Linked DNA regions of Homo sapiens. The protein of the gene in region 5 interacts with the protein of the main gene of each other region in a biochemical or structural test. Each region holds a gene or a part of one and is shown on either strand. Other genes may lie near its edges.

Evidence for each region.
Region 1: the proteins of GABARAPL1 (region 5) and TBC1D16 form a complex in vitro, tested with the Homo sapiens proteins (one study listed by BioGRID).
Region 2: the proteins of GABARAPL1 (region 5) and TBC1D17 form a complex in vitro, tested with the Homo sapiens proteins (one study listed by BioGRID).
Region 3: of the proteins of GABARAPL1 (region 5) and SRPK2, one has a biochemical effect on the other in vitro, tested with the Homo sapiens proteins (one large-scale study listed by BioGRID and IntAct).
Region 4: the proteins of GABARAPL1 (region 5) and CCT2 interact in a test that uses a peptide from one of them, tested with the Homo sapiens proteins (one study listed by BioGRID).
Region 6: of the proteins of GABARAPL1 (region 5) and SRPK1, one has a biochemical effect on the other in vitro, tested with the Homo sapiens proteins (one large-scale study listed by BioGRID and IntAct).
Region 7: the proteins of GABARAPL1 (region 5) and TRIM32 form a complex in vitro, tested with the Homo sapiens proteins (one study listed by BioGRID).

What each region holds. Positions count from the first base shown.
Region 1 is NC_000017.11:79,952,373-79,955,872, forward strand, and holds part of TBC1D16 (TBC1 domain family member 16), read right to left. Parts: intron 447-3,500; coding exon 285-446; intron 1-284. UniProt on the Homo sapiens protein: May act as a GTPase-activating protein for Rab family protein(s).
Region 2 is NC_000019.10:49,880,702-49,884,201, forward strand, and holds part of TBC1D17 (TBC1 domain family member 17), read left to right. Parts: intron 1-566; coding exon 567-774; intron 775-1,339; coding exon 1,340-1,451; exon of another isoform or gene 1,452-1,473; intron 1,474-1,540; coding exon 1,541-1,699; intron 1,700-2,062; coding exon 2,063-2,191; intron 2,192-2,271; coding exon 2,272-2,375; intron 2,376-2,560; exon of another isoform or gene 2,561-2,949; coding exon 2,950-3,044; exon of another isoform or gene 3,045-3,500. UniProt on the Homo sapiens protein: Probable RAB GTPase-activating protein that inhibits RAB8A/B function. Reduces Rab8 recruitment to tubules emanating from the endocytic recycling compartment (ERC) and inhibits Rab8-mediated endocytic trafficking, such as that of transferrin receptor (TfR).
Region 3 is NC_000007.14:105,140,922-105,144,421, reverse strand, and holds part of SRPK2 (SRSF protein kinase 2), read left to right. Parts: intron 1-1,091; coding exon 1,092-1,338; intron 1,339-1,931; coding exon 1,932-2,414; intron 2,415-3,500. UniProt on the Homo sapiens protein: Serine/arginine-rich protein-specific kinase which specifically phosphorylates its substrates at serine residues located in regions rich in arginine/serine dipeptides, known as RS domains and is involved in the phosphorylation of SR splicing factors and the regulation of splicing.
Region 4 is NC_000012.12:69,595,459-69,598,764, reverse strand, and holds part of CCT2 (T-complex protein 1 subunit beta), read right to left. Parts: intron 1,610-3,306; coding exon 1,490-1,609; intron 1,128-1,489; coding exon 999-1,127; intron 798-998; coding exon 694-797; intron 444-693; coding exon 344-443; intron 1-343. UniProt on the Homo sapiens protein: Component of the chaperonin-containing T-complex (TRiC), a molecular chaperone complex that assists the folding of actin, tubulin and other proteins upon ATP hydrolysis.
Region 5 is NC_000012.12:10,219,377-10,222,876, reverse strand, and holds part of GABARAPL1 (gamma-aminobutyric acid receptor-associated protein-like 1), read right to left. Parts: intron 2,438-3,500; coding exon 2,319-2,437; coding exon of another isoform or gene 2,166-2,318; exon of another isoform or gene 1,895-2,165; intron 1,091-1,894; coding exon 1,025-1,090; 3' UTR 1-1,024. UniProt on the Homo sapiens protein: Ubiquitin-like modifier that increases cell-surface expression of kappa-type opioid receptor through facilitating anterograde intracellular trafficking of the receptor. Involved in formation of autophagosomal vacuoles.
Region 6 is NC_000006.12:35,886,599-35,890,098, forward strand, and holds part of SRPK1 (SRSF protein kinase 1), read right to left. Parts: intron 2,326-3,500; coding exon 2,217-2,325; intron 1,514-2,216; coding exon 1,426-1,513; intron 214-1,425; coding exon 126-213; intron 1-125. UniProt on the Homo sapiens protein: Serine/arginine-rich protein-specific kinase which specifically phosphorylates its substrates at serine residues located in regions rich in arginine/serine dipeptides, known as RS domains and is involved in the phosphorylation of SR splicing factors and the regulation of splicing.
Region 7 is NC_000009.12:116,690,305-116,693,804, forward strand, and holds part of TRIM32 (E3 ubiquitin-protein ligase TRIM32), read left to right. Parts: intron 1-3,500. UniProt on the Homo sapiens protein: E3 ubiquitin ligase that plays a role in various biological processes including neural stem cell differentiation, innate immunity, inflammatory resonse and autophagy.

The DNA.
Region 1 (3,500 bases), on a different chromosome or scaffold from region 5:
TTTGGTTTCTTCTCCCAAGCCAGAGTTGCAAGCAACCGCTGGCTACCATCACGCTGAAGGTAGGGGAGTGAGTTCGGTAGCTCACCCAGCCTGAGAACTGTCAGGGAGCTGCAGTGGGGAATCACTGCCCACAAGATCAGCGAGGGAGGAAAGCAGACGCTTGGGAAGACTCCATCCAGGGCCCTGTGTCCCCAAGCCGTGCACTGCACCGGCTGCAAAGCCCAGGCTGCCAGGGAAAACACACACAGGCCAACTCCCAGGAGGCGCCCAGAGATGCTTCCTACCTGAAGAAAAGGCGGAGGGAGCGCATGTGGCCCAGGTCCACGCGGAACACGCCGCAAATCTGCTCCAGGGCGCACACCCGCTGCGGCTCGTCCCAGCGTGGGGTCTGCAGGAGGCCGTTGCTGTCCGGGAACCGCAGGCCGGCGTCGGAGCTGGACGGGGGGCTGGTGGAACAGGTTATGTGATGATCGCCACACTTCTCCCTGCCCACACTACCCAGAGGGGGACGGGGGTCATGGGGGAGTCATTTAAACCTACGCACCAAGCTTAAACACACATACAGGCACGGCTGAATATGCCCTGTAAACACCTGTGAATAAATGAATGTATGAACCCCACTGCACAGTTCTACTTCCACTTGGATGGGAAAGCATTTTCATGATCAAATTCCATTCCACTTCAATAGAGGCAGTAAGTCATCATCGTCCTGACAGCCAAGGTCACACTGACTGGGGTTCCTCGCTGTGTGACCTTGGCCAAGCCACCAAGCCTCTCTCAGCCTTCGTTTTCCCATGGATAAAGAAGGCAGGAGAATAACAAGGCTGGGTTTCCCTACAGCGTGGGGCTGGGCTTTACTAAAACTGGTTGTTTTGGGATGATTTTAGATAGCATGGGGCTTCCGCGTGGTTTAAACCAGCTCACTGTATTCCTGAAAAGTACTGGTTCAGTTTATGCTTTTGGTTAGGAAACATTTGGGTTCTCAGTACTATTAATAACATCATCAGCATTTATTAAAACACTGACTATGGGCCTGGCCCTGAGCTAATGCTTCTCAGGTGCTTTTATTGCAATTAATCTTCACAAAAATCCTCTGAAATGAATAGTGGTATTACCCCATTGTAAAGAAGAGGCAACTGGGGCCCAGAGAGGTTAAGTAATTTGCCCAAGGTCACACAGCTGGCAAGTGGTAGAGCTGAGATTAGAACCCAAGCTTTGTGGCCCATGTTCTCACCAGCATACTGTGCAGCTGTCTGCAGTTCAGCAGTACAACCCCATTTATTCTGTTATTTTTTATGAGTTTGTTACATTCCAAATTGCAAAATATCTTATTATATGGATTCAGCCACCTCACAGGTTAAATCTTGTCTCTTGAGATTTTTTCTTTTTTTCTTTTTTCTTTTTTTTTTCTTTTTTTGAGACGGAGTCTCGCTCTGTCACCCAGGCTGGAGTGCAGTGTGCGATCTCGGCTCACTGCCACTTCTGCCTTCCGGGTTCAAGCGATTCTCCTGCCTCAGCCTCCTGAGTAGCTGAGATTACAGACGTCCACCACCATGACCAGCTAATTCTATATATTTAGTAGAGACGAGGTTTCACCATGTTGACCAGGCTAGTCTTGACCTCCTGACCTCAGGTGATCCACCCGCCTCAGCCTCCAAAAGTGTTGGGATTACAGGCGTGAGCCATCGCGCCTGACACTCTCTTGAGATTTAATGTCTAGCAAATGTCTGCTAAAATAAAACCGGAGTACAGGCAAGACTCAGCTCTGGACCCCAACTGCAGCACCCCACAGAGACTCAGCCGCATTCACCGCACCTGCCTTCCCGTTTGAGCTCAGAACATAAACTATTAGAGGCAATCAATCCAGAGGCACTTCCTCCTCCAAGAAGCACCAGGTCTAAGTAAATAAAGCTCCTTTGGAGGGTTCCAGCACAATCCCTCCCCACTGGGAACTTCACACAGAGAAACCTGACTGGCCTTTCTAGAGCCCTCTACTGCGTCAGGCATAGCCCTGGGCCTGGTGAGTGGCAGGTGGCCTTTCTTCCCCACCTGCCTAAGGAAGTCAGCCGAACAGGTCCTCCCACTGCTGGGGCCCCTGGGCTCTCAAGGAAACTGAGTCAGGTAAAACTAGATCAGAGATGGGCATGTGGGGCCATCACCTGAACTGCCGTGGCTGCGCCGCGGACGGGCCCAGAAGACCGAGGGCTCCTGACATCTTCCCAAGTGGACCCTGCGGGAGCTGCGCTTCAGAATCGTTGCTCACAACACAGGGCAGGTCTCGAGTCTGAGGCCCCACCGCACCCATGGGTGCCCCCTTCTGTCATCTGCTCATTGAACCGCGGGGCTGCTGTGACTGTGAGAGCTGCTGCCCCGTGTGCTGCCTGCTGGCCCGGCCCACCCAGTGGGGCCATCAGAGGGTGGTATCCTTTCCCGCCTCCTCCCCCAGCCTTCTTACCACACCCAACAGCAGAATCCCCCAAACCTGCTTGTTCCTCCCAGCACACTGTGGCCCACTCACCCTACAGGGCAGGCCAAGGTTTCCAGAAACCAGACAGAACACAGAGACTCGCTTTGGCAGTCACGGATGGAGGGCCCCCTCCCTGCTGCCGTGGCCACAGAAGACTGGTCCCCTGGAGGGCCGGAGCCGATTTCAAACCAGGCAAGAGTCCAGGACACAGGGGCCACCACACACCTCCCCCAGCAACGTGCCTCCAGGCAGGAGTTGGCTTAAACCCTCTCGCAACCCCTTAGGGGCAAATTATTTGCATTAATTAATGGATTGATTCATTAATTCAAGATACTGTGCTTGGGACCTACAGCTGGGGTTCCATAAGCTCAAACTAGAGCGAAGGTGATGGAGACCTCAGTTCGCTTTCATTGGGGTACGTCTGGCAGGTACCCCAGGCCCTGTGTGGTCATGGAGGACGAGGTCTGGTGCCCCTCGAGGCCGGCTGCTGTGGGGTGGGGGTTGCATCGTGTCTCTTCATCTTCAGCTCCCAGCCCTGGCTTGGCGCAGAACACACAGACATTTAATACTCATGCCTGAAGTGAAAATGTAAAGTGTCTGGGAATTTTGAAGTCACAGAAAAAAATGTTTAAAGAAAATAAACTACAGGGAAAACGAAATATGTACAGTGTTTTATTTTTGCTTATCTTTCTACACACGTAAAGCAATTTAGTTTTAAGAATATTCATATATGCTGCAAATAATTTAGCTTGTTCATAAAATTATGTGATGCATTGGAACTAAAAGGATGGGTTTTGCAGGCGATAACTCCCAAGATGCTATTACATTAGAAAGATCTCACACATAAAACTAGAAGACGCTAAACTTTAAGAAATGTAGCAGTTCTTCATTTCTATCATTTTCTGAAGATCACCCAAATGTAAAAGCAGTAATGAAAAAAAGTCAGCACTATCACTGGAAAACAAACACAAACACTGGGTTCTCCCTCCACCACAGTAAACTATGCCATGTCAGATACAGAGATAGAGATTTA
Region 2 (3,500 bases), on a different chromosome or scaffold from region 5:
GCCAGTTAGGGTGATTTGCACCATCCTGGGGTCACACAGGGTGCAGGGGACATCCAGAGAAGGCACGTGACCCCTCTGGGGAATGGAGATTCCTTCCAGGAAGAGGTGATGCTGGAGCTTGGCACTGAGGGACTCTTGGGAGTTTTCTCTTCTGGCAGAGAGAGCAGCCCGTGCAAGCCAGAGGCAGGCGGCCCCCGTGTGTTTAGGGAGCCGCTGGCCTTTCATTGTAGCTCAAGTGTGGGATTTTGAGTGAAGAAAGGTTGGAGGTAAGATAGGCAGGGGCGAAGGACAGACCCGAGGGGCCTCGAGTGCCAGGTTGAGGAATAGGGCCCTTACCCTGCAGGTCGAGGGGTGCCTAGGAAGGTTCTGGAAAGGTACATGTCCACTGGGCCCCCTTCCCATCTTACTCATTTGTGCTTCCAAGGAATGTGAGGCCAGGGGCAGAGGGGTGGCTTGTGGCGGGGCCCTCAGGAGATGCCTGTGCCGAAGGAACATCCTGGGTTGTGGTTGATAAGGCTGACTCTGGCTTCCCACGCGCTTCCCCCAACACAGTGCCGTCTCCCTAGGTGCAGAGCCCAGCTGCCCCCAGGGCTCCTGGGCCTTCTCAGTGAGTCTGGGGGAGCTAAAGTCCATCCGCCGCTCCAAGCCAGGCCTCAGCTGGGCCTACCTGGTTCTGGTGACCCAGGCTGGAGGTTCCCTGCCCGCACTGCACTTCCACCGCGGGGGCACCCGCGCCCTGCTCCGCGTCCTCAGCCGCTACCTGCTGTTGGCCAGGTGAGCTCTCTCCCAGTGCTGGGCCTTAAACCGGGCCCAGTCCCACCATGGCTGCAGCGTGACCCCTCGGGGCTGTGAAAGAAACACAACTCACACTGATTTAAAGGCAGGCAAAGAGTTGACCAGCACATATAACTAAAAAGTCAAAAAGGAGTATTGATTTCAGGCAGGACCCAGGTCCCAAAATGTTAGAAACAGTTATCCTTTTTCCCTCTGAGTTCGTTATTCTCTGGGGCCCCAGTATCCGTGGCTTAACAACCCGGCTGGATAGAAGGCACCTCTTTCCCCACGTTCCAACAAGATCCCAGAGCTGCTTCTCATTGGCTCGTCCCTGAGTCAGTCACACTGGACCGGAAGGTGAAAGGCCCTCATTGGCCAGCCCCGAGTCATGTGCCCACCCCTGGGATCCAGCTGTGGGCCTCCTTTAACAGCATTCCCTGAAATGAGGGGTTGCCCAGGGGTGGTTGGGACGCTGCAGCTGGAACCGATGTCGGCCGAGCACAGACAGCCTGGGACACTGGGCCCCTACCTGTGCATCACCTGTGCGTCACCTCCCGCCTCCCAGCTCCCCGCAGGACTCCCGCCTCTACCTTGTCTTCCCCCACGACTCCTCTGCTCTCTCCAACTCCTTCCACCACCTGCAGCTCTTTGACCAGGACAGCTCCAATGTGGTGTCAGTGAGTGTCCCCAGCAGGAGGCCTGGCGGGTGTGGGCAGGGAGGGACGAGAAGGGGCGGGCCGTGACCTCCCTTTGGCCTCGTCCCCAGCGCTTCCTCCAGGATCCCTACTCCACCACCTTCAGCAGCTTCTCCCGAGTGACCAACTTCTTCCGGGGTGCCCTGCAGCCACAGCCTGAGGGAGCCGCCTCCGACCTTCCCCCGCCACCCGACGATGAGCCCGAGCCTGGATTCGAGGTCATTTCCTGTGTGAGTAGTGAGTGGACCCTCCCTGTTATTTCTGGCCGTGTCTCCCTGGGCGCATGATTTCATTTCCCTGGGCCTCAGTTTCCTCTTTGGTAAAACGGGGATGGTAATGGGACACCCTCAGGGGGTGCATGAGGAAAGCGCTCATGGCTCTGCCAGACACTGTGAGCACCTGCTCACCCTTATTGGGGGACCCCTCCTAACTGGGGGATGACTTGGCTGCTGAGCCCCGGAAGAGGCTGCTGCCTGCCCCTGAATGTTAGTCATCCGTCAAGCTAATAAGCTCTCTGAGCTTGTGGACTGAGGCTGGGTTGGGTCCCCCCACCACCCCGCCGAGCCCCAGGCTCATTTGCTCTTTGCCTGCAGGTGGAGCTGGGGCCTCGGCCAACCGTGGAGCGGGGCCCTCCAGTTACAGAGGAGGAGTGGGCACGCCACGTGGGCCCTGAAGGTCGCCTGCAGCAGGTCCCTGAGCTGAAGAACCGGATCTTCTCGGGGGTGAGTGCCAGGACAGGTGGAAGAATGGGGCAGGGCCAGAACAAGGCCCCACTGAGCTGCCTGCCCTCCTGCACCCCCAGGGTCTGAGCCCCAGCCTGCGGCGCGAGGCCTGGAAGTTCCTCCTAGGGTACCTCAGCTGGGAAGGCACAGCTGAGGAGCACAAGGCCCACATACGCAAGAAAACGTGAGTTCTCAGGAGGCCCTGCCCTGCCAGGCATGACACCTGGTACCTCCTAGGGCACCAATGGGCAAGTTCTGTGGACGCTGGTTGTGAACCTGCTGTATCTGGGCACCATCCTGCGCCTGTGGAATACGGCAATGATCAAGCCAGACCCATCCTCACCCCTGTATGGTCTGTCTCCATTGCAGTTTTCATTCCTGTGCCATACTGTTTTAATGATCACAGTTTTGCAGCATGTTTTATAACCTAGGAGGGCCCGTCTCTCCTCATTCCTGGTGTAGGTTATATACCTGCCAGGCACTGAGGATGCAGCAGTGCTGGACGATTCCCTGTCCCTGGTGCCCTGTCCAGTGGGGGGTGACAAATTTTCATCAAAAGGCCACAAGGCTATGTAGTGAGAGATGCCAGGAAGGTGAAGTGTAAGGGATAGTGGCAAGAATGACGAGGTGACCTGCTTGGGTCTGTGTGGTCAGGGAGGGGCTCTGCAGGGCTGACCTGGGAGGTGGCGCCAGGCTTGGAGGTCTCTGGGTGTTGCAGACAGTGGCGGCCTCACATCTTGTTTCCCTCTGTCACTCAGGGATGAGTATTTCCGCATGAAGCTGCAGTGGAAATCTGTGAGCCCTGAGCAGGAGCGGAGAAACTCACTTCTGCATGGATACCGCAGCCTCATCGGTCAGTGTCAGGGGTGGCACTTAGGGTGGATGGGAGCAGGGAACCACAGGAGGGCCTCAGGCATAAGTGCGAGTGGGAGATAGAGGGAGCCCCCTGCCTCCCCAAGACCAGTGAGAGGGCATCTTGGGGGAAAGCTGCATGGGCTGTTGGGGAATGGCCCTGGGGGAGCAAGGCCAGGGACAGGATGGGAAAGAAGGGGAGCCCAGCTCCCTTCAGGCCCAGTCTCAGTTCTGTCAATGCCTGGTGATCTTGGCAAGTGATTTTGCCTCCCTGGGCCTCAGTTTCCCCTACTGTGGGAGGATATAGCCAGCTGGTGAGTGGGAGGCCTGGCGCCTCACAGCAGGAGCATCAGTGATAGTTTCTAGAACCAGCTCTGCTTCTCCCCCAGAGCAAACCCCGAGGCTGGGGGCTGCCAGCAGGAGGAGCAGTGGGGGCTGGCACTGGTGGCCAGCAGGG
Region 3 (3,500 bases), on a different chromosome or scaffold from region 5:
CAAAAATGCAAAAACTAGCTGAGTGTGCTGGTGGACGTCTGTAATCCCGGCTACTCAGGAGGCTAAGGCAGTAGAATCACTTGAGCCCAGGAGGTAACGGTTGCAGTGAGCTGAGATCACGCCACTGCACTCCAGCCTGGGCGACAGAGTGAGACTCCATCTCAAAAAAAAAAAAAAAAATTAGCCGGGTGTGATGGTGTGCACCTGTAGTCCTAGCTACATGGGAGGCTGAGGCATGAGAATCACTTGAACTCAAGAAGTGGAGGTTGCAGTCAGCTGAGATCACGCCACTGCACTCCAGCCTGGGCAACAGAGACTCTGTCTCAAAGAAAACAACAACAACAACAACAAAACACTATTTTTACTGAGACAGCTCTTGATTTGGAATGTAAGTTCTGGAACAAGAGGGAGCTTTAATAATTAAGCTTCCTGGCCTGCTGAGAAGCTCAAGTTGTTTCCCATAGTTCTTCCCTGGCTTGAGCTGCTTGAATTTACTGATTGATTGAAAGGTTGGAGGCTGTCATTGCCAGTGCTTTGCAAGTCAGGTAACCATGACGGGAGGCAGACAAAAGCTGTAGCTTTTTCTTTTTTCCCTTTGCAGCATAGGCTTATCTCTTACAGTTCATGTTGTCTTGGCTGCTAAGAGCTTCATATGTGAGACCCAAACACACAGTGACATACACCTGCTCGGGCACCTGTTTCATTTTTGGCATTGAGGAGCTGGGATGTTGTTACTTTGTATATAGACAGCAGCAAATAAAACTTGCAAGAGGAGCTTCTCCTTTAAGGCCAAGAGAATTTCGAACTTCAGTTCTCTTAGAGTTTGAATGGTGAAGACTTACTGGATTTAAGCTATATCCCTCTGAGGGCAGGACCTGGTAGTAGACCTAGTACGTGATATCAGTCAGCACTGCTTTCCCTTTGATTTTATCGTAAGCCTTACCACAAAGTGGATCTGTCTGGGTTTGGGATTTTAATAGAATATGGCATGAGAAAGCAGAGTTTATTGCTATTTGCCATGCTGCTAGTCGTTATACTATCGTGGTGCTTTAAAAAGAAGAATACTGACCTGTGGTCTTTCCTTAACATAGATAGGAAAAATATCTAAAAACAAAAAGAAAAAACTGAAAAAGAAACAGAAGAGGCAGGCTGAGTTATTGGAGAAGCGCCTGCAGGAGATAGAAGAATTGGAGCGAGAAGCTGAAAGGAAAATAATAGAAGAAAACATCACCTCAGCTGCACCTTCCAATGACCAGGATGGCGAATACTGCCCAGAGGTGAAACTAAAAACAACAGGATTAGAGGAGGCGGCTGAGGCAGAGACTGCAAAGGACAATGGTCAGTGGGGCCTGGAACCTGGGCTGCATGGGGTTCTCAGAGCTCCATTAGTAGGGTTCTGCCAGGTCAACATGGGGGCTGATTTGTGCTGCTGCTGCAGATGACAAGGATGATTCTCTCCAACTCCCTATTGGGAAATATGGGAAATAGCCTCGTACTTCATTTGTGAACTGTATGCCAGAAATATGTTAACATTTCAAAATAGTTTTTAAAAATGTAAAATAATTGAGAAATTCCATGTTTCTATCATGCTAATGATGGTGCTTTATTTTGTCATTAACTTTTTACCTAACTGTAATGCACCACAAGTCTGTTTCTGAAGATTATAGAGGGTAGAAATGGAAGTGCAACTTTATTTAGAAAGAGTTATTTTCCCTTAAAGCTAACTTTTTCTTATAAGAGCAGGCCAATTACTAAATGAATGAAAAATGAGATTTAGAAAACCTGAAGGTTTTACCCCAAAAGCCAAGAGGTGTTTACCAGGTGGTACATAAGCATATTCAAAATGTATTTTATTGATGGAGATAAGTACTTAATGAGGCTGTATTAAGGAGAGTAACAAGTTCTAATTCTTGACCCATCAAATTCTTAAGGTGAAGCTGAGGACCAGGAAGAGAAAGAAGATGCTGAGAAAGAAAACATTGAAAAAGATGAAGATGATGTAGATCAGGAACTTGCGAACATAGACCCTACGTGGATAGAATCACCTAAAACCAATGGCCATATTGAGAATGGCCCATTCTCACTGGAGCAGCAACTGGACGATGAAGATGATGATGAAGAAGACTGCCCAAATCCTGAGGAATATAATCTTGATGAGCCAAATGCAGAAAGTGATTACACATATAGCAGCTCCTATGAACAATTCAATGGTGAATTGCCAAATGGACGACATAAAATTCCCGAGTCACAGTTCCCAGAGTTTTCCACCTCGTTGTTCTCTGGATCCTTAGAACCTGTGGCCTGCGGCTCTGTGCTTTCTGAGGGATCACCACTTACTGAGCAAGAGGAGAGCAGTCCATCCCATGACAGAAGCAGAACGGTTTCAGCCTCCAGTACTGGGGATTTGCCAAAAGGTAAGTGTTTCTTCCCATCAACTGTCTGCCATCGCTGACTCCAGGGACGTGCCTTTAACAAATGCTGTGAAGGAATTGGCTGGAAGTGGCCAAGCCCTGTGTGTGTGTACTGATCAGTTTTATTACTTTTATACTCCTGAAGAAGTAATGTGATTTAAATAAATTTTCTATGCCATTAGGCTATTTCTTGCTCTCTGCATACCAAATCTTATTTCTGACCAGTTTTCATTTTTAATATATTTAGTCAGCAGCATCATTTGCAAAAACCTTCCAGTTTTAGCAACTTACACCTTTCTAGAATGTGTAGTTTAGTTTAAAATTCGTATCTTCTTCCATCTAATGTCATTATATTTAGTTTAGTTTAGTTTTGTTTTGTTTCTATTCAAGAAAATTATGCCTCCTCTTTGACTCTATTGAGAAAGAAGTGTCATATTGTCTTTTGATAGTTGTTCCTGATTATAGGACCCTACTATTGGTAACTGGCCCAGGATTGTAATTTTCAAGGAATTGGCATGGATTTAAATGTGATGACAGATTATAGATTGGCTCTTGTGTTCTTGTCTACCTAAGAAGGCTTGACTTATTCAAAGCCTTATTTTGGGAGTGAATGCCAAGTGACTCTAGTAAGTGAAAACTGGGTAACACAGCTGGTTTCCATACTGGCTTATGGGGGAAAAGCTCTGAAACCTCCCTCTGCTCCCTCTACTGACAAGACTGTTTAACACACAGCGAGTAAAATTGATGAGCCAGCCCTGCAAACAGCCCGACATTCTGCAGCCCCTTTGGTTCCAGCAGTCTGGAATTGCACGCCGAGTAAGCTGGCTTTGTTACGCACTGGCTATGATGAATCCTCCTAAGGATTTGCTTTCTTTACTTGGCTGGACGTGGTCAGCTCCTGTTCCCCTTTCCAGGGAGTGTTTGAAGGTGCTTACATAGAATGTAGGTTAATTTCTGGGAAAGGGCAGTAGTGAGAGGTACCTTATCCAGACTTATTGTTGCTGTTGCAGTTCAATTTTTCTCTTACTTGAAGTTTCTTTTTTTTTTTATGAGATTGAGTCTTGCTCTGTCACCCAGGCTGTAGTGCAG
Region 4 (3,306 bases), about 59 Mb from region 5:
CTATGAAATTAGAAGTTAATACTGATTGTATAAACAACATAATAGTTTATGTTATTTTTCAGAATGTAAGTATTGTTTATATTTAAATCCTATAGTCGTTATATACCAAATAGTTACAAATCTTCTAACCAGTTTTACATGTCTTATGGAATAACAAAGTTTGGGAAATGCTGAGCATATAAAGTCACACACATTTTCCCAGCACATGTAATGATTATGAGGACAAAGTCCAAAAGAGTCTTTTATACGGTTATTGTAACTCTTTATGTTCCAAAAGAAAAAAAAAGCTTAGTGAAAAGAGTTACTTTTAACAACGGCCACAAAGTTCCCCTTGATTGCTTACCCAATCCAGCAGTGGTATTGCCTTCACTGTGAGCAGCCCTGAGCTGTGCCACCAGGTCTGCACTGTCATAGCCTGCATTGTCAGCTATGATGGTTGGCAACTATGAAAATGAAGAAAACAAGTAACTACTCACTCTACTGTAAGAACCACTGATTTACTCCTAACTAGGATAGCTTTTTAAAATTATACATTTAGGAACAATGTAAAATCTGCTTCAGTTACTGCTCACGAAGAGGAGAAACTCCAGAATCAAATTTAAAAGCAGTATTAACCAGTTCATTTTCTACTCATTTTAAAACTATCAATAACCACAAAACTTAAGTTCGGATCTCTCATTTTGATTAACTTACCATTCTCAGTGCTTTAGCATAAGACTCCATTGCAACAGCTTCTTTGCCTGGTGTTCTATTGGCAAGCTGTGTCACAGCATGAGCCATCAACATCTCAGAACAGCCTAAAGATTAAAATTCCAATAAAATATTGCAATGCTTAGTTGTCTCCAAGATACTGAATTACTGACTTTAAGATATGCCAAGCATTTTAAAATTTAGTGCAAAAGCAATATAAGATTTCTGTAAGAACCATTAAAACCACTTATGACTTATATTGTACTTTAAGAAATTAAAAATATATTCAACATTTTCTAAATGCTTACCTCCTCCATAAACTGTTCTAGAGTCCTTTACAGTTTGCGCAAGAACACAAAGAGCATCATGCAATGATCTTTCTGCTTCATCTAAAATTTGTTGAGTGGCACCACGCAAAACAATGGTACAAGCCTCACCTAAAATTAAAAGACACAGTGACCACTTAGGGATAAAAAGTTTGCCTTCTATTATTTATGCCGGTGTTGGTTATATTACTGGGTTCTGAAAGCTGACCTGTCTTCCTGTATTATACATTCTCCAACAATCAAGGCTCATAATGGTTCTAAGTTATCAAGGAAAAAAAACTGTTGAACATGCACTGTTCACAAAGACACGGTAAATATGAGGTTGACTCAAGAGACTGAAACAAAGTATGTATCATGCTTCTGAAGAGTTAAGACTTGTAAGATATGCTATTCTAGTAACTACAATAACCTTTACTTCAACAGAGCCTAGCAAGAATTTAGACACCCTAACCAGGATCTACATAATCACTCACCAAGGGCAACCCCAGAAAAGTGAATGAGTTTGTCTTCTCCAATCATGACTTCCTCGATAAGTTTGCAACTTCCAAGCTTCACCAGTTCTGGGTGATCAAAGGTAGAGGCAATTTCACCACCTATAAACATAAACATGTATTAGTTAAATGCACAGCAGGCTTAAAATTCCTGTTTTCTAATAAGCAGTAATGGATAGATAATGATAGGTAATGTGTTTCACATTTTAAAAATTGATTGCTGATTATATTCCTGGCACTCTTTTTAAATACTTCATATCGACTAATTATTTAATCTTTAAAATAATCCTCTTGGATAGGCTCCATTATTATCCCATTTTACACATGATAAAAATGAGGCCAAGAGGTTTACCTTCCTATCCAAAGACCTAACTAGGATGAATATAAAAAGCTGGGGTTCAAACTCAAGCAGTCTGGCTTCAGACCTATAAGCACACACTATACAATACTACCTTCCCAAGGTTAAACTGAGTCTTAAAGCAGTTACTTTTGAGTTTAAATTCAGATTCTCTTCTGAATCCAACCTATAAGACTAAGACCTCATGATACAATTCCCAGCACAAGACATGAAAATATTTGTCCTATAAGTCAACCACTATACACTTCATGAACTGCTTAATAAGCACCTGATATCTCTAATTATCACAAATGAAATGTCCTAAGGCCTAAAAAAACAAGAAATGCATACTAAGAATTTCCCAGACCAAATTTAATAAGAACAAATTAATTTAGTCCTTATGTCTCATTTCTATTCCTATTTTCCCTCCATCTTCCATGCTGTAAACTGAACAGGTCAGCCACTTCGTTCCCTATTTCCTAACTAAGCAAAAGTCAGGTTTCCATTTCAAAATCCTTTTCTCTAGCTGACTACTCCTTTCATAATGTGAATTGCATATATTATCAATCAACCCTTCTTTTCCTATGCCTTACTGATAAATCTGTCAATGCTCTATTATTTATTTTATAATAAATTCATAAAGACTCTGGTCTTTGAAACTACTAATTTATACTCATAATTTGTATAAAGTTCTTTTTACTTTTGGCTGGCAAAATTCTGAGACTGCTTTGTGTTCTAGATGTGAGACACAACAGATATTTGGGACGTCATATCCAAAAATAAGACTAACTTGGCTTATGAAACTTTTCACTTCATCCTTCTACATGAGACTTTTCTTTCTTTTTAAAGAGAGAGTGTCTTGCTACCTTGCCTAGACTGGAGCGCAATGACTATTCACCAGGCACCATCATAGCACAACCTCCTGGGCACAAGCAATCTTTCTGCCTCAGCCTCTTGAATAGATCAAACTGCTGGCACATGCCACCATGCCCAGTGCAAGACATTTATTTAATGACACTTGCAAGAACCAATGTCATCATACACCTTTGACAACCACTGAGCTTTTAAGGATGGGAGCCACCATGTGGTCACCTTCATAGACATACAGTTGGTGTACTTAATAAACATTCTTCTGGGTATAGAGCAATTTCATGTCAAGACCTTACGATATGTTTATCCCATCAATATATTATTACCATTTACTTCTTACATCTTTTTTTTTTTTTTTTTTTGAGACGGAGTCTCGCTCTGTCACCCAGGCTGGAGTGCAGTGGCGCCAATCTCAGCTCACTGCAACCTCCACCTCCCGGGTTCAAGTGATTCTCCTGCCTCAGCCTCCCGAGTAGCTGCGACTACAGGCACCCACCACCACGCCTGGCTAATTTTTTTATTTTTAGTAGAGACAGGGTTTCACCATATTGACCAGGCTGGTCTCAAACTCCAGACCTTGTGATCTGCCCAC
Region 5 (3,500 bases):
CTAACTAGCAGCTGCAGTGGATGATAACCAAGGAGGGAAGCAGCTGGCCATCATGTAGCATTCCTGTGCATGTGAGCCTGAAGGGACAGCAGCATGGGAGCAAGAATCCTGAATGAGAGTAGTATATAATTACCTTACTTCATACTTGCCCCCTCCCTACATAAGACACCTCTGTCCTGATACATGGAAAATACTAGAGGAGATGCTAAGAGTGGTTTTAGTCTACAATTGGAAATGCCTGAGACTTATTAAATTCCAAGGAAGGGGTGAGATAAGGGGCACCAAAGAGAAAGAGCAGGTTAGACAGGGATGCTCAACACTCTTGTCAATTCCAGTTTAATGCTATTTAATAACAAAACCATCTTCTTAATCACAACCACCTTCATGCCTAACCCCTATTTTCCAAAGGTAAGAGATCCCTGTCTAAATTTCTGGGTTGTTGTCTACTGCCACCCCTGGGGTGGTACTGTGATGTCTGAGTGAGATTGCAACCGGGATGGGAGAAAAGAAGTGTGAGACAGGGAAGATCAGGGGCCACAATGCATCAATTACAGTGGGTCTCTTTTGGTCCCCAGGTATGGTCCACTACCACAAGTCCCCTTTCCCTACCTGTCTTGTGCAAATGTCAAAAATAGAATCTCTGCCCAAAGAGAAGGGAGCACAGGGAGTTGCTGCTGGACTGCCATCATCTCTGGCCCCAACTTGTCCACCTCCTGACCCATCTATGAAACTGCACAACAATTAAACCCCAGGAATACTGTAAACTTACATCATCCCCATTCCTCTATCAAAGCCAATCCAACAGCTCTGTCCTGACATGCTTTCTCCCTGGGCCGAGGAAGCAGCAAAAAATATCAATTGAGCATGTGAAAATGTGATGACGGTGTGTGTGGTGTAATGTTTCTAGATGTCTTCACCTTCTGTCTCCTTGCGGTGGGAGCCACCCTCTTTCCCCATGTCGCGCACACACACCCCTCCCCTACCCCCAAGTCCAGGTGCTCCCATCTGCTGGGCTTCCAACCACTCATTTCCCATAGACACTCTCATCACTGTAGGCCACATACAGAAAATAGTCTTCCTCATGATTGTCCTAGGGGAAGAGATAAGACAACAGTTTAGAAAACATATTCATTCATTAGCTCTAAGATGCTGAGCCTCACACAACCTTGTAAAGCAGGTATGGAAGGTATCATTAGTCCCCATTTAAAAGAGGAGCAAAGGATAGGGAGAAGTGGTTGGAATTACACTTTGAGCTCTGAGTTCACAAACAAAAATCCTTCATTGAAAACATATTACACATAGGTATCAGGGATATGAAGATGACTAGGGCACAGTCCTCACTCTTAAAGAGCTCACTCCTAGCAAGGGGAACATAGATACCACAGATGGATATATAATGGGACATATACTAACAGGGAATATATGCTATGCAAAAAAAGATTCAGGATTATTAGAAGTTTACGTAATTCATTAACGGAGCACAATGAGAAGGAAGCATCTTATGCAAAATACTGCAAAAAACAATAGTTATAATCCCAGGTTATATTTTCAGTAATAATAAAGTCCTTCACTATAGTTTCCTCAGATTCTGACACTTCCAATTAAACCACATCACATAAAAATTATTCCTCCTGAGTTTATCTGTTAAGACATGAATCCATTTACAGACTTTGCCTTAATTTTATATTTCATTTTATCTGATTCATTGTGCCCAGATAATGTGGAATCTGTTTCACAGTTTTAGTTTTGTTCTAAGAAAAGTTTCCCCTTGTTTAGTATCAATGTGGTTGTCTTAAGCCAAAACTTCAGAGTTCATAGAAGAAGCTGACTGTGGGGAGAATCCTTCAGTTGGCAGAGGCTGGCCTCAGAGTTAGAAGGAGCTGGCTTTACTATTACGTGCTTTCTCAATCTGTTGCTAAATGGGAGTAAAATAATGAACTGGATTCTGAATGCATTACAAATTACATGCTACCAACCAGAATAGCAGGAACTGCGATGGGCTGACGCTTTGGAACTTTTGCTATCAGGAATCACTTCCTGCTGTTTCAATAAACAGTCCAGCATTAAAACACTATAGTCAGACAAGACTATAGTCAGACAAGATTTCAGAAGGATTAAATCTAGTAGAGTGGCTAATCCCTAAAAAACAAGAGGTATCTAATCTCTCAGAGCCTTACACTGCCATATGTAAGAGGATCCGGATAAATAACACCTTCTGCCCCACTTCTCAGATGTGTTATCAACGCATCTAGAACAAGGGCTAGAGGATGCCAGACTGCACTGGACGGCATCCAGTATTGTGCAACCAGAACCATTACCTCATACAGTTGGCCCATGGTAGCACTGGTGGGAGGGATGGTGTTGTTGACAAAGAAGAATAAGGCGTCCTCAGGTCTCAGGTGGATTCTCTTCCGGATTAAGAAGTAGAACTGGCCAACTGGATGATGGAAGAAGAAAAGGGCAGAAAAGAAAGTAAGAAAACAAGGAATTAGTAGAAGGGTAAGTCCTGGAAAAAAATTCAATTGCATTTTTTCACCTTAGAGTCAGTACCAGCTTTATATACCATCTGAGAAGAGCCAAATACCGGCCTGGAGCTTTCAAAATAAAAAGGGAAACTCGGAAGCCCACACAGTCCCTGACTTGCCATAGTGGAATTTATTCCTCCTTTCCCCTCTTATTCAATCTCAGACCTCATGTTAGCATATCCACTCAAAGCCTGAGGACTACGTTGAAGGAATACCATGTGCATCCAGACCAAAACATTCCCATCACTGTCTAAACCTGACTTGAAACTCTTTCCATCCCCAGACCCTCCCTAAGAAAAACTTAGCAATGGAAAGGGGTCCACTGGACTCTGGTCATCTTAGCACAGTCAGTCACCTCAGTGTTGGGGCATTAAACAAGGTTCAATGCTTTGCCTTTACTTGAGAATACTGAAAATTTTCTAGATGGCTGATATTCAAACCTATTAACTCTGGAGCAAATCAACAAAATCTTTCCAGTGTGTCCTGGATGCAGTGTGTATTCCATTAAGGATCACGATGAAGACTGAATATATGTATTTTTTTTTTTTCCGAGACAGAGTTCTACTCTGTCACCCAGGCTGAAAGCGCAATGGCGAAATCTCGGCTCACTGCAATCTCCACCTCCCCAGGTTCAAGCAATTCTCCTGCCTCAGCCTCCCGAGTAGCTGGGATTACAGGCACGCGCCACCATGCCCAGCTAACTTTTGTATTTTTAGTAGAGACGGGGTTTCACCACGTTGGCCAGGCTGGTCTCAAACTCCTGACCTTGTGATCCACCCGCCTCAGCCTCCCAAAGTGCTGGGATTACAGGCATGAGCCACCACACCCAACAATGAATATATGTCTTATAATCTCAAACAAAATCTACAAAACTTAGTTTAAAAAAATGTAGCTTAAGAAGATGTATTTAATCAGGAAACTCTAAAATATAATCCTCTCAAGAAGCCAGACTGGTTTTCTTTTTGGAACAAATTG
Region 6 (3,500 bases), on a different chromosome or scaffold from region 5:
AATAAAAGAGGTAATTTTATTATAGTTTGCCTTAGAAAAGACACCAAGGCCATCTACACAACAAATCTAGTTCCTTTCTTTGGGATTGGGATGATTTATTCTCAAATAGGTTTTTAAAAGGATACGTGTTCCATTAACTCCTGATATTTTAAAGTCATCTAGTAGTTGAACAACCATTTCTCTATTTGGATCATTAGGGTCTGAATTGCGAACCTGTAGTGGGGAAGAGACAGTGTTTAGCACAAGGTAAAGCATGGAAATAAACCAGATGGTAGGGGAAGAATACTTACAGCAAATTAACTACAAGAAAGAGCTCACATAAATCTATTTTTAAAATATACTAAAATTTCAATAGCTTTAATGGAGAAAAATCTTAAATAGTCAATTCATAAGAGGAAATACAACCAACAGGAACTATTTTTCTAATTAAACTATTTTGCTCCCTGATATCAATCAAAGTGTGGCCTCCAAATTAACTGATGATTACCAGGCTATGAGGAACTAAGAAGATTTTGCAGGATGCAAATCAACTACAGCACTAACCACACTGTTTTTTTCAGCGGACATTTTTTTTTTCATGGAAAAACTTTCTCAATGAAGAAAACAGTATGTTGATTTACTTTTGGGTAGGTACAAGGCTCCTTATCTTGTCACAAACGGACATTCTGAAAAGTACTGTCTTAAGCCAGATGCAGTGGCTTGTGCCTGTAACCCCAGCTACTCTGGAGGCTAAGGCAGATCACTTGAGGCCAGGAGTTGAAAATAAAAAAGAAAACTACTGCCATAGAAATCTCCTGGTGCAACATTCTCACTTTATGAATAAAAAATCTGAGACTCAGAAAGAAAAAAATGGTAACATGGAGGACATACCGGGGTAAAGGCGACCTAAACCCAGGTTTTCTAATTCTGAATTTAAGTTCCTTCTACCACACTGGCATATTCCTAATTTAAAACAGAACTAAAAATACATTTTTGATAGAATTTATCTCAGTTTCCAGGTATAAATGGAATCAGTAAATACAGTATTTTTATATTATGTATTCTATAACATATTTGAAAAACAACAAAAAAGATGCTATACATTTATTTACACAACTTTCCTTTTAACCATAGTAGGAAAAAAAAACATTATGACAGTAGCTACCTGGCCTGTAAAACATGCTCAGTGAATATTTTTATTCATTTGAAAGGTTTTTTTTTGGTTCATGCGTGTAAGAAGAATTCTCATCATAGCATTTGCCACCAGTTCCCTACTACATGCATGGTATGTGTAAATATTGTTGTCTTCCTTTACCTCTTTAAGGTTACTAGAACTTTATAGAGAAAATTATCCATGCTAAAGAGCCTCCACTTGGTGTGTTTTTATTCAATGAAACTTGATTTATTTATAATTCTTCACATTCATACATATAATCTAATACTCACTGACTTCAGCAACCGGATTTCATCTAGTGCTGTTTCAGTGTAATGTTCAGCACTTTTAACTACTTTCATTGCCACAAATTTCTTCCCCCTAAGAAACAAACACAGGCAATTAAGACTACATAGCCTACCCTTACTTTAGGAAGCTAAGATTTAGCTATAAGATGGTTAAAAAGGACAAATATTGATTTCACGTTTCCCTGTAGCCCAAACAAGCTACTTCTATGGGAACATTTATACTTGTTAATGACACTAACTGGCCAGATTTCATTTATAGGAAGAATAAAAAATCTGTTCTCAGATAATCTCAGTTGTTGAACATTTTCTCTGAGTTAAAATCCTTCTTTTGAATATCTCCCTGAGTTACAAGCAAAACTGCAAAATGAGGATAAATAAGGGGAAAGATATTACCAAATTCCAAGTGTTCTGTGTATATATCTGTATATAGGCAAAAACTAAAAGGTTAAAAGCTGTAATATTTTCCCATAGGCAGCCAGAAGAAATACTTCGGTGAAAAGAAAATGATAAAAATCACAAAAAAATCAAACGACAAAAGCTTTACCAGCATTAATTTAATCACTCCTGTCTCTATAGTAGAAAGGGAGATATATAATACTGATTCTTCACGAAAGAAAAGTGGTTTCTCCAAGAATACAGAGACTATTGCCAACAACAAAATTCTGATAAATGAATCAGGCTAGAGATAGATTGAAGCCTGGATCAGCAGTGGAAACTCAGACAAACACATTTAGACATCATCTAACTAATTCTTTTACAGAACCACTAAAACTTACTGAATATCCCATGATAACCATACTGTTGAAAAGTGTCCCCAGCCTAACTTTCGGATCACATGGTATCTCCCATTGAATAGATCTCCAATTTTCACAAGATGATAACCTCCTGGAAGAAACAGGGGAAATACAATCAGAAAAACCAGGATGAGAAACAATGGTAAGAAAAGGCATTTTTAACATCACATTTTTCAACATCTATATACCTTTTATCAATAAAAAGTTTCTTTTATACAATCAATTCAACAGAAGAAAATCTTAATAGTCAAATCAGCCACATAGTATTACTGAATTCATGTTATTAAAAAAAGTGAGTAAGATTAATGATTTAGATTGAGCCTACAACAGTCTCATCCAAAAACAATAAAAAGGTTGTATATCATGATATTCTTGTCTCTCAATAATTCAATAGGTTTATCTAAACATATATATCTATTTACAATTACAGTCTCAGGTGTTTTTTAGGAGACAGAATAATTCTGTTTATTTAGCAAAAAAAAAAAAGCAAGTAAGCAAACGGGATTTTCTCTAAATAAAAACAAAACAAAACAGCCCAGGCACGGTGGCTCATGCCTGTAATCCCAGCACTTTGGGAGGCCAAGGAGGGCGGATCATTTGAGGTCAGGAGTTCGAGACCAGCCTGGCCAACATAGTGAAACCTGTCTCTATTAAAAATACAAAAATTAAGGCTGGGCATGGTGGCTCACGCGTGTAATCCCAGCACTTTGGGAGGCCGAGGTGGGTGGATCACCTGAGGTCAGGAGTTTGAGAACCAGACTGGCCAACATGGTAAAACCCAGTCTCTACTAAAAATACAAAAATTGGCCAGTGTCATGGTGCATGCCTGTAGTCCCAGCTACTCGGGAGGCTGAGGCAGGAGAATCGCTTGAACCCAGGAGGTGGAGGTTGCAGTGAGCTGAGATTGTGCCACTGCACTCCAGCCTGGATGACAGAGCCAGACTCTGTCTCAAAAAACAAACAAACAAACAAAAAACAAAAAACGGCAAGGCGCGGTGGCTCACCCCTGTAATCCCAGCACTTTGGGAGGCTGAGGCAGACGGATCACAAGGTCAGGAGATCGAGACCATCCTGGCTAACACGGTGAAACCCTGTGTCTACTAAAAAAAAAAAAAAATACAAAAAATTAGCCGGGTATGGTGGCGGGCGCCTGTAGTCCCAGCTACTCGGGAGGCTGAGGCAGGAGAATGGCATGAACCCGGGAGGCAGAGCTTGCAGTGAGCCGAGATCGCGCCAACTGCACTCCAGCCTGGGCGACAGAGCGAG
Region 7 (3,500 bases), on a different chromosome or scaffold from region 5:
AGATAAGAAAAATAACAGGTTAAATGACTTACCCAGGGCTACAGAGCAAGTAGCTAGGTTGGGATACAAACCCAGTTCTGTCTTACACCTATGTTACATTATAGTAGTTTTATTAGAAGCCTTTTCCAACCCTTCAGAGCCCCTATGTTTATGTCTGGAGAATAGTTGGAAGCCAGAAGTTTATAAGGCCCTTAAAGTAGATCATTGTCTATGCACACTGATGTGTAACCTTTGTGACATTCCCTCCATCTTGTCTTTCTGGTAAAACAATCAAATTTAAAAATCATTTCTAGGTGCCCTTACCAACCTCTCAGCCAGACTTTGTCTAAAGCTAGGGAACTATGAAACATCCTTTAAGTTAGTAATTTTATGGCTGGGAGTTGATACTGGGATTTGAATCCTTGCTCTATTACTTATTGGTTTTGAGACCTTGGACAGGCTACTTTCTCTGAGCATTGGTTTCCTTATTTTTGAAGAGGAATCACACTTACTTTACATGGTTATTATGAGACTATGAGAACATATAAAAAAATGCCTGACAATAAATAGTAGTTGCTTTAAGAGTGTTAGCAATTATGAGAGGAAGGCAGTGCTGGAAGAGAACTAAGTGTTGCTTTGTCATATTTATTTATTTATACAGGGTCTTGCTGTGTCACCCAGGCTGGAGTGCAGTGGTGCAATCACAGTTCACTGCAGCCTCAACCTCCTAGGCTCAAGTGATCCTCCCATCTCAGCCTCCCAAGTAGCTGGGACCACAAGTGCATGCCACCACACCTGATTATCTTTTAAATTTATTGTAGAGATGGTGTTTCACTCTGTTGCTCAGGCTCTTTGCCAGATTTTGATAACCCTAAGTAGTCTCTGCTAGTCTCCCCAAAATTCTCATCCCATTTTGTATATTTCCTAGGATCTCCTTGATCCTTTAATCATAATCTCATGATTAAATGAACAGATGTTATATGCAGAGAAAGGAATTGAAAGAGAGAGAGGGTTGAGGTTAGTTGGAGGTCCCTGAGAAGGGGCTATTGATTTTTCCTTTGTCTTATATTCCTTGAGTCATACTGGCAGCGTAGGTACTACTCAAATGTTTGTGAAAGATGCAAGGGAGTCTTTCTAGGTCCTGCAGTTTTAGAGGAAGACAGAGACAACAGGCAAGCATGTTTTCCAGGAAACCCTATTATTCATTTAGCCTGCCCTTGACATAGTTTAGCTATGTTTAACTTAGTAATTTAGCTAAAGTTTTCTTTCTCTACAAACATACTTCCTTCTGGATCGTTTTGTTTGCCCCAGACTGGTACAACTTCAGGAGCATGCCTGTGTTTCCCTATAAGCCCCTACTTGTTGAGTTTATCTTAGTTGTCTGCAGGTGCCTTAAATGCCCTGAGTAATCTAAACTTCATCAGAATCCTCTCCCACACACAGGAGTGGATGTCAGGTGATGACCTCACTGAATTCGTTAAAGTCAGTCCTGCTAACGAGTGGCCTTTGGTGGCACAGTGATAGTTTTGCACTTGATTAGCATTCTGTTAGAATGCATGAGGAATAAAGTTTAGAAAGCTGACATAAAAGGAAATGAGATAAACCTTGCAAAAAACCCAGTCAAACCAGGGGAGCGTGTCAATAGTAGGATGGACCTTTATGTCTTGTGAAAGGAAATGCAATATTTTACATGTTGTCTAGTTTTTAGGGGAAAGCACTGTTTATGTCTGGTTTTTGCTCAAAATTGTATCACCAGTACCGTTCACAGGGCCAGACACATAGTAGGTGCTTAGTAAAGATTTGTTTTGTTAATTGCTTAAAGTTCTCCAGTTTTGCTCATGGCCTAAGCCACCAAAGGCTGATATAGGTAAAGGAAATGGAGATATCTAGAGAACCACCCCATGGTGGCAATTCAAGCATTAGGTGAAGATTTGAAACCTTAGATCATCTCTAATCTTTAGATTCTGGGATCAGGTAAAACAATTTCTAGGAGGGCTTAGAATTTTTATTATTTAGGTTTATGTATCTGGGGCCTTGGGTACAGTCTGCTGAAAAGTGCCTATTCATTTCTTCTAATAGGTTGGGTGGTGGCAGCAGCAGTTGCTGCTACTGCTAATAATAATAAAAACTATTATTTATGTATAGTTAATTGCATGCCTGGCTTGGTACTGTACTTAGTGCTTTACACACATAATCTCATTTAATCTTTGCAATAACTTTGTGAGGAAGATACTATTTTAAAGTCCCTTTCCATAGATAAACTGAGAACTACAGAAGTATTAATAACTTGCTCACGTCTCCACAATAAGTAGTAGAGCTTGAATTCAAATCCAGGAAAGCCTGATCCCTCAGGCCTGCTTCCTTAATCTATATAATACTGTCCACTCCTAGTTCGTGTCTTTTAGTCCTAGTTCTGTTGTGTGATTTGTGGTCTTAATTTCCCTCTCCTGGTCTTAGTTTTCTCATCTATTTTACAACTTGAGATTACTACCTTTTCTTCCCCTTTTGCCCAGGCTGAAGTACAGTAGCATCATCACAGCTCACTGCAACCTCCACTTCCTGGTCTCAAGTAAGGAGATTGCTACGAATTCTAGCATTTCATACTTAGTCTCTGCTTGAAGGAGCTACAGCAGCTCATTTTCTGGGCAAGACAAGTTGTAAATTCATTTACCCATCAGTTTTTAGCCTGTATGTCTGGCATTCTCAATCAAAACTCTTCAAAACTGACCAGCCCTTTTATTAATCTTTATATGCCTTTATATGCCATGAAAGGAAAGGTTGTTCATGCTTTCAAAATGTAGTTTGTAAACTGAATGCGTTATTAATACTAGTACTAGTTATTGTTAATGCTGTTTCTGGTTATTATTTATTTAGCATCCTTTTATTGTACACCTAAGGGTATCAGGCTAAGTACTTTATATGCATTTTCCATAGTCATTACAGTACTCTTTTTATAAACTAAGAAAACAGGTTTAGACAGGTTAAATAAATTGCCTGCTTCCCCACAACTTGTGACAGTGCTAAGATATGATCTCAGTCCTATATAACTTTAAGGTTCATTCTTTTGTTTTGTTTGCTTTTTCTACTACCTTGGTTACTCATTTCATGGAATGGGGAAAACCCAGTGGTGCTAGAAGAGGCGAGATTAATATGGAATATAATTATGTAATTTTTCTGAGTCTTAGGGCAGCCAGAGTAGACACAGCTTAAGGGACAGATTCTCATCGGGAGCTGAAGAGATGTGCTAGTACAGTATGGTATGGGATGTACAGTATTAATCATTAGGTCAAGGGATGTGGGAAGATGGTAGGCTGATGTTAGATGAGGTGGGAGGTCAAGAATTAATGGCACAAAGTGCACAACAGGAAACAGACATTCAAGGGATCATGAAGGGAGCCAAGATGATACATAGCATGTTGGATACTCATTCTGATTGGTTGTACAGTTGATAGCTGGCAGAAAATGGGCAGCTTACTTAAAGATTTGGAATGATAAGACAATTCCTTTTATTTGTGTAGTCT